Linked DNA regions of Homo sapiens. The protein of the gene in region 1 purifies or fractionates together with the protein of each later gene. This does not show direct contact. Each region holds a gene or a part of one and is shown on either strand. Other genes may lie near its edges.

Region 1 (3,820 bases):
TGGGGTGTTTTATATGCTTGAAATATTTCATGGAATAATTTTTAAGTGAAGCATGTAATTATAAGCTTGTTAATTCTGTTTAAGTTTTATAGCTAAGTGAATTTTAAGTGAGTTCTAGACATTTATTGTAAATTATGTGATAGCACATTATTTTTTATTTTATATTCTCGATTTTTGTTTTATGACTTTAACTAAATTTCCAGTATTTAAAAGGTTTTAGATTTTCTAGCTTCTCATTTTTTTGTATGTTTTTCTTTCATAGTATGAAATTAATCTTTTGGAGCTGATCCAGAGAAGAAGAACAGTAAGTAGAAGATTTTCTAGAAGTTGGAGAAAAATACAGAACTAAGCAGTATGGCTGTATAGTTAGGACTTGTGTTTGGGAGACAGTGTTGATAAAACTGTGGTGATATGCCTATAATGGATATTTGTAATTATTTGTTTGCTTCATCAGTACCATTAAGTGGTCAAGTAGGAATGCTGTTTTGGACAAATATGATTAAGTTGAGGCTCTGTTTTTTTATGTCCCCCTTTAGCGCATTGGATATTCATTTAAGAAGGATGAGATTGAGAATTCTATTGTACACCGGGTACAAGGTGTTTTCCAGCGTGCCTCAGCAAAATGGAAAGTGAGTGATCAAGGCATCCTTAACTTTATGAGATGTGAAGATAAGTATTATACATATTGTATTAGGGATTCAAATGCAGTTTTCTATTTTTATCTTGGGTATCTTTATACTTACTCTAATGATGGTATCATTACTCAAAACATTTTTTGAGCCACTTAACAAACCAGTAAGAAAATTGATCTTATTACCTTATAGTTATTCTATGAGGACAGTGCTGAAAACAGTGTATTTGATACATTACTAAGGATTGGAAATTTGGGAGATATTTGTATATATTTGTAAGTACACTGAAGACTTAGAGCTAGAAAATAAATGGTTATGTAGGGGCAATACCTCAGAAACTTGATTTTTTTTTTTTTCTTTTTTTTTTTTTTTTGAGATAAGGTCTCACTGTGTTGCCCAGACTAGAGTACAGTAGGGTGATCTCGGTTCACTGTAACCTCTGCCTCCCAGGCTCAAATGATTCTCCCACCTCAGCCTCCCCAGTAGCTGGGATCACAGGCGCATGCCACCGTGCCTGGCTAATTTTTGTATTTTTGGTAGACATAGGGTTTCGTCATGTTTTTTAGGCTGGTCTCGAACTCCTGGGCTCAAGTGATCTGCCCACCTCAGCCTCCCAAAGTGCTGGGATTACGGGAGTGTTTGGGATTGGGTATATTATATGAGAAGTATTTTGGATTCTTGGTAATGACAAATTTTATATTGCTACCCCAGATTGAGATTCTTTAAGAACTGCATTAAACCAACTGGATAGATAACAAAGTTTTTTTGGAGCATTGTGAGTGGGAGTTGGGGGAAAGGTTGAATTATCATAGTTAAGAGATCGGAGGCCTTTGTGAGGAAGAGCCAGATAGGATGAGAGGTGACTGGATTTTCTGAAATCTGCTTCTTTTTTTTTTTTTTTTTTTTTGGTGGGGGATGGAGTTTTGCTCTGTTGCCCAGGCTAGAGTGCAGTGGTGTGATCTTGGCTCACTGCAACCTCTGCCTCCCAGATTGAAGCAATTTTCCTGCCTCAGCCTCCCCAGTACCTGGGACTTCAGGCACGCACCACCGCGCCTGGCTAATTTTTGTATTTTTAGTAGACAGGGTTTCACCATCTTGGCCAGGCTGGTCTCAAACTCCTGACCTCAGGTGATCCACCTGCCTCAGCCTCCAAAAGTGCTGGGATTACAGGCCTGAGCCATTGTGCCTGGCTTTTTTTTTTTTTTTTTTTTGAGGTGGAGTCTTGCTCTGTCACCCAGGTTAGAGTGCAGTGGCACACAATCTCGGCAGCTCACTGCAACCTTCGCCTCCTAGGTTCAAGTGATTCTTCTGCCTCAGCCTCCCTAGTAGCTGGGATTACAGGCACATACCACCACACCTGGCTAATTTTTTTTGTTTGTTTTTTTGAGTTGGAGCTTCCCTATGTTGCCCAGGCTGGAGTGCAGTGGCCCGATCTCGGCCTCCCGGCTTCAAGCGATTCTCCTGTCTCAACTTCCTGAGTAGCTGGGATTACAGGGGTCTGCCACCAAGTCCGGCTAATTTTTTTGTATTTTTAGTAGAGACGGGGTTTCACCATATTTGACAGGCTGGTTTTGAACTCCTGACCTCAAGTGATCAATCCGCCTTGGCCTCCCAATAATCTTTGTAATTTTAGGTTAGGTGGGGTTTCACCATGTTGGCCAGGCTGGTTTCAATCTCCTGACCTCAAGTGATCCGCCCGCTTCGGCTTCACAAAGTGGTGGGATTACAGGTGTGAGCCACCGCATCCAACCTGAAATTTGCTTGTTTTTAGCAAAATTAATTAATGCAAAGGTGTATTATATGTAAAGGTCAAATTTGGGCAGCTTACTACATTGCTTTTCTTGCAGGACGATGTTCAACTTTGGCTCTCCTATGTGGCTTTTTGTAAGAAGTGGGTGAGTAAAGCCATGCATGTCTTGCTTCCTCTGACCGTCTTTTTGTTAATCTGCCCTTTAAGCTTCATGCCAGATGTTTTTTCCTGAAGTGTAGGGTTAACATGAAAAAAGAACCCAAGAAGGCGGAACATCAATATAACATTGGATATCTGAATGACTATGGTTTCCAATTCAATTGAAAAGAATATAATTTTTACGTGTGTTTGTTCAATACAGTTGACTTTTTAAAAAGATATTTAAAGTGTTTAGTGGTTTAATTGAGGTAGAAAATTTTGAGGGTCTGTGTTCGTTTATATATCCCTAGCAATAGCATGTCATGCTCCATTGGATTTTACAGTTGGTAAAGTTAGGGTACATATTACTTAGAGAGTAAGATCAATGATTTATCTGTGCAGGAAGTAGAAATATTTTCCTTTTTTACAGGCTACTAAAACTCGACTTAGCAAGGTATTCTCTGCCATGTTGGCGATTCATTCCAACAAACCAGGTATGGTGAAATCTTTGTCAATTTTTCTATGTTTTATTTAGACTCAAGCCATTTTGGATTTTATTTCGATTGATGAATCTAAGAGAAATTATTTTGAGGACTTGAGCTTAGGCAGTTGGCCTCAGCAGTTTTTCTTACTGAATAGCTGCCTCATAGTTCACCCCTGCCTACTATATACTAGTTACTGTCCTAGGTGTTGTATCTGCAGGCAAGAAGGACTGTATTTCTTTTTTTTTTGAGACGGAGTCTCGCTCTGTCGCCCAGGCTGGAGGGCAGTGGTGTGATCTTGGCTCACTGCAACCTCCGCCTCCCAGGTTGAAGCAATTCTCCTGCCTTAGCCTCCTGAGTAGGTGGGATTACAGGTGCCCGCCACCACGCCCAGCTAATTTTTGTATTTTTAGTAGAGACTGGGTTTTACCACGTTGGTCAGGCTGGTCTCTCGAACCCCTGACCTCGTGATCCACCCGCCTTGGCCTTCCAAAGTGCTGGGATTACAGGCGTGAGCCACCACTCCCGGCCAGACTGTATTTCTTTTTAGATGATGGCAAAATAAACTTTTGAATCCTTTGTGGGACATTTTATTTGGAGGCAGTCAAATCTGAGGAATTTTAGAAGCTTAAAGGGGAAAATATCAATATAAATTTTAGAAGAGTGCTGGTACAGAGTAGACTCATGTTTTGTAAGAGAAATATTTCTCTTGTGAATAATGTATAAATGGTCTAGTTGATAGTGGAGGGGCCTCAGCACCTATTCTCAGGGTATTAGGCTTAATCAGATATCTTATACCACACAAGACTCAAATAGAC
Region 2 (3,820 bases), on another chromosome or scaffold:
CAAACCAGCTGGGTGTGCAAGGTTCAGGAGAACTGCTTAGCTGATACAGCGGAAGCCAGGTTTTAGTATGATGTAATTTTTCTATTTTACATTATTATTGTGGACAAGAGAAGGAAGTAAGAGGGTAAAATCAGAAGAGACTTTTTTTTAATTAAGGAAACCAAATGAAAAAAATCATAGCAACAGAGAAATTCTTCTAAATGCAGTGATATTCTTTGTAATCTCTATGAAAAGGTAGTTCATTGTCTACTTTTTTGAAGTCCTGGGCAGTTATTAATAAAAGAGCAGAGTGTGTCCCTCCCTACCTATGGGGTATGGTATCTGTCCAGAGGGGAACAGTGACATCTTTCCCACAGCCATCCTGCTTCCCCTACTCATCTCATTTATTATCTGCATGTCTGACAGGAGCCTGTGTTCCTTAGGCTTCCTAAATAATTGGAGAGTGTAATTTATGGAAGTCACCAGGTGCTCTCCTCTGACCTTGAATAACCAAAGTAAACTTTTGTGGAGTATTTGCTTAGTGTCTTAGCCTCACAGAATGCTGGAAAGGGGAGATGATTGGAAATTATTTTTGACTCTAGGTCTTTACTTTTGTATTAACAATGTAAGCTGTCCCTGTTTTATTCCACGGTGATTTTGTGAGGGGACTTATTTAGAAGCTTGGCATCCTGGGCATTTCAGTCCAGACGGTGCCAGTCCAGGGACAGATGGGCGTACCCAGCCTTTTCTTTCTTGTCCTTTGTCAAATTTATGACCATCTTTTTTGGAGGGTAGCTTGCCCAGCTCTTGTTAAAGATCCCCAGAAAAAGGTCTGGGATCAATCATCTGGTACATTCTGTGAATTTAAGTCAATGGTTCCTTTCTCTCAGGAAGTATTTTCCTTAGAACTTTTCTCTCACTGAGTAGTGAGAAGTTTGCTCTTTGAAAGGGAATTTTAAACCACAGCAGCAGATACATAGACCTTTCTTTGCAGCACACTTCTGCATTGCTGCGGAGGCTGTGCTGACCCAGAGGGATCGGCTGAGCAGACAAGTGGCAGGATACCTGTCTGTTTACCTCCCTGCACCTGCTCAGGCCCACTGAGTCCCAAGTCAGACTTCAGGGGTAAGATAAACAAGATGGGAATTTATAACAATGCATCTTTTTGTCCAGATTTCGTGGCAAAGACTTATACATTTTATATCATAGTTGTACTCAAGTATGTATAAAATTCTTGGTGTACTAAATAAATTAGGTGTATATTCATATTCCAGAAATATACTTGTGTGAATAAAAGAATTTGTTACGTGTTTTCTTCCAATAGTCTCTTCCCCTGGTATGTCTTAAAGTGTGATTGATTTATACGCTAGAGAAACAGGAATTGGGAGTGTAAAATGAGGGCTAGAAGAACAGGCACCCATTTGCCAGGGGCACCCCGTCCCTCCACCTGCCCTACAGGAGCCTCCACGTTGACTTGTCACGGGTCCCAGATTTGTTCTGCTGATGGCACATGTCAAAGTCATCATGTTCCAGAGATGCTGCGTTTTTCATTTTTTTTCAATAAATACATGATTTGCTCCAGTTATCAACTTTATAAATATAAAACAAAACCACATATCTCTTCACATAGATTCTATTTAATTGTAATTTGTGTAGCACTCTGAAAGTTAAGAACAATTTACGGAAGAGAGGGAAGACTTAAAATTGGGAGACCTGATCTTTTTCTTTTTTTTTTTCCCCTGTAAGTAAAATATTGTCATTGCTTAATATCATATCCTACTGGAACTCAAGAGAATGGACTGGAAACCTGAGGTTGCCTCTTTAATACATCTCTCCATCTCTAAATGGGTCTTTCCGAAGTTCCCTTTTGCATCATAAATATGCATTATTGATATGAACTGGAAAAAGGAAAGATGAAAACAGTCTCACTTTTCTCCCATCGTAGATCCTGAAGTCCACCCTCAAAGTGAGGATTACTGGGGCCACGTGAATCCAATAGGACCTCGGGCCTGCTACGATGAAGGCAAACGTGTTGCAGAGACCATGTGCTATGCCTACATGAAGCAGGTATTTCACCAGGGTCTAGGCTTGCGGTTTAGGCGTGCTGAGCACCCTGACCTCAGATGTAAAGTGTTGTAAAGGAATGAATGCCATGACTGATTTTGTCTGGGGATAGGTGTTTGGGAAGCTCAGTTTCCCAGTATTATAAATTAATGGTATTATCAACAGCTTTTTCCATGTATCTCCTTATTTTAAAAATGATTTCCTAGAGATCAATTCTTGGGTTTGGAATACTATTTTATGGCTATGAACAGAATGCTTCTTCATTGCCAGTTGCTCACCAGCAGCTAAGAAGTACCTCTTTTCCTGAAGCCTCCAAATCAATGGATCTTCTTTTTTTACTTTTCTATCAATTAAGTAAAAAAATGGATGCGTTATTGCTGTAATTTGAACCTCTTTATTGTTATTGATATTTATTTACTGTTATTTCATGCTTTCTTCATTAGTCATTGTTGTGCTGATGATATTTTATGTGACAGATTTGGTCACCTGCATGTTATAGCAGAAATTGCTCACAGACCAAGAGGCCGAGGTTGCCACACTGGCTGTGCTGCTGTGTGACTCCAAGATTTAAGCCGTCATTCTCTCAGTTCTTATCTCTGACACAGGGTTTGTGAAGCCTGCCCTGCCCATCTCAGGGTGGTGCAGGAGCCAATGAACTGTGCAGAGAAGGTGGAGGCCTGGGCACAGGATATCCCATTCATGTTCTCACTGAGTGTGTCCTTGGGCTTGGGTCTGAATTTTCACATCCTCATGAAAATGCCCTCTGGTATAGTGGGACATGCAGGTAAATCAACATGGCTGTGGAACGTTGGTCCAGGACAGGCTGTTGGTAGATGCAGTGTCTGTTTCTGGGAGCAATGCTGTCAGGCCCAGGGCCCAGTCTGCAGGTGAGCCTGGGGAACTGTCGGCTATGTGCTCTGTAGGAGGGGCAAGTGTCATCAGCATGGCCAGCATCCAGGAGTTTTCCTGACTGTCTGTCTCAGGCCCCGGCAGAGCCCCAGTCAAGCATGTGCCAAGGGCCAGGTCTCCTGTTCCTGACCTTGGGATGAGAGTTTAATCGACTTCCCTTCCCGTGGTACCACAGAGGACAGGGCAATGTAAAGCCAGGTAGGCTCTCTGAGGGGTAGGAGAGAATGTCGAGGACTCTCTTTCTCATCATGTGTTTAATGAAATGCCAGCATTAAAGATGCATAAATTAACCTTATGCTATTGTTTATATTTAAACTTTTCTGCTTTATTTCTTGGCCAGAAGCAGAACTAATTGCCTTCTAAGCGACTTTAGTCTGTTGGCTTACATTATCCACTTCCTCTATGAAATGCCGATCAGTTTTAGTAGGAACATACTTTCATCATTTTGGGGCCCAGAATATCTTGACTCAAAAGTTTCAGATGATCTTCCAGACACACAGGACCACTCTGTGTGCATGGGTACTTAGGAGTACTGACTAGAGTGTCAGGGGTACATCATTGCATTTTATTCTAGAATGTGTTCCAGGAGTGATATGATTCTCAACTGTTTTCTTTTGCTTTCAGTCCTATGATTGTATTTCTTACCTAGTGAATTTTTATATAGGTAAAGCTGGTGGACAAATGGGACATTTTGATTGAGCTTTTAGTTTTCATTAAATGATTATTCGGCTAATGTAGTTGATAACTTTATGGGTATACCTATTGCCTTAAGTATAAGCTTGCGATAATTATGGTATTTGGCAATAATAGAAGCAGCACTTCTTGAGCACCGACTGTATGCTAGGTACTGTTCTAGGTATTTGGCAAT

The links.
Region 2: the proteins of UTP6 (region 1) and UXS1 purify together in Homo sapiens (co-immunoprecipitation; one large-scale study listed by IntAct). This does not show direct contact.

What each region holds. Positions count from the first base shown.
Region 1 is NC_000017.11:31,891,454-31,895,273, reverse strand, and holds part of UTP6 (U3 small nucleolar RNA-associated protein 6 homolog), read left to right. Parts: intron 1-262; coding exon 263-304; intron 305-536; coding exon 537-629; intron 630-2,479; coding exon 2,480-2,527; intron 2,528-2,950; coding exon 2,951-3,014; intron 3,015-3,820. UniProt on the Homo sapiens protein: Part of the small subunit (SSU) processome, first precursor of the small eukaryotic ribosomal subunit.
Region 2 is NC_000002.12:106,121,196-106,125,015, reverse strand, and holds part of UXS1 (UDP-glucuronic acid decarboxylase 1), read left to right. Parts: intron 1-1,924; coding exon 1,925-2,046; intron 2,047-3,820. UniProt on the Homo sapiens protein: Catalyzes the NAD-dependent decarboxylation of UDP-glucuronic acid to UDP-xylose. Necessary for the biosynthesis of the core tetrasaccharide in glycosaminoglycan biosynthesis.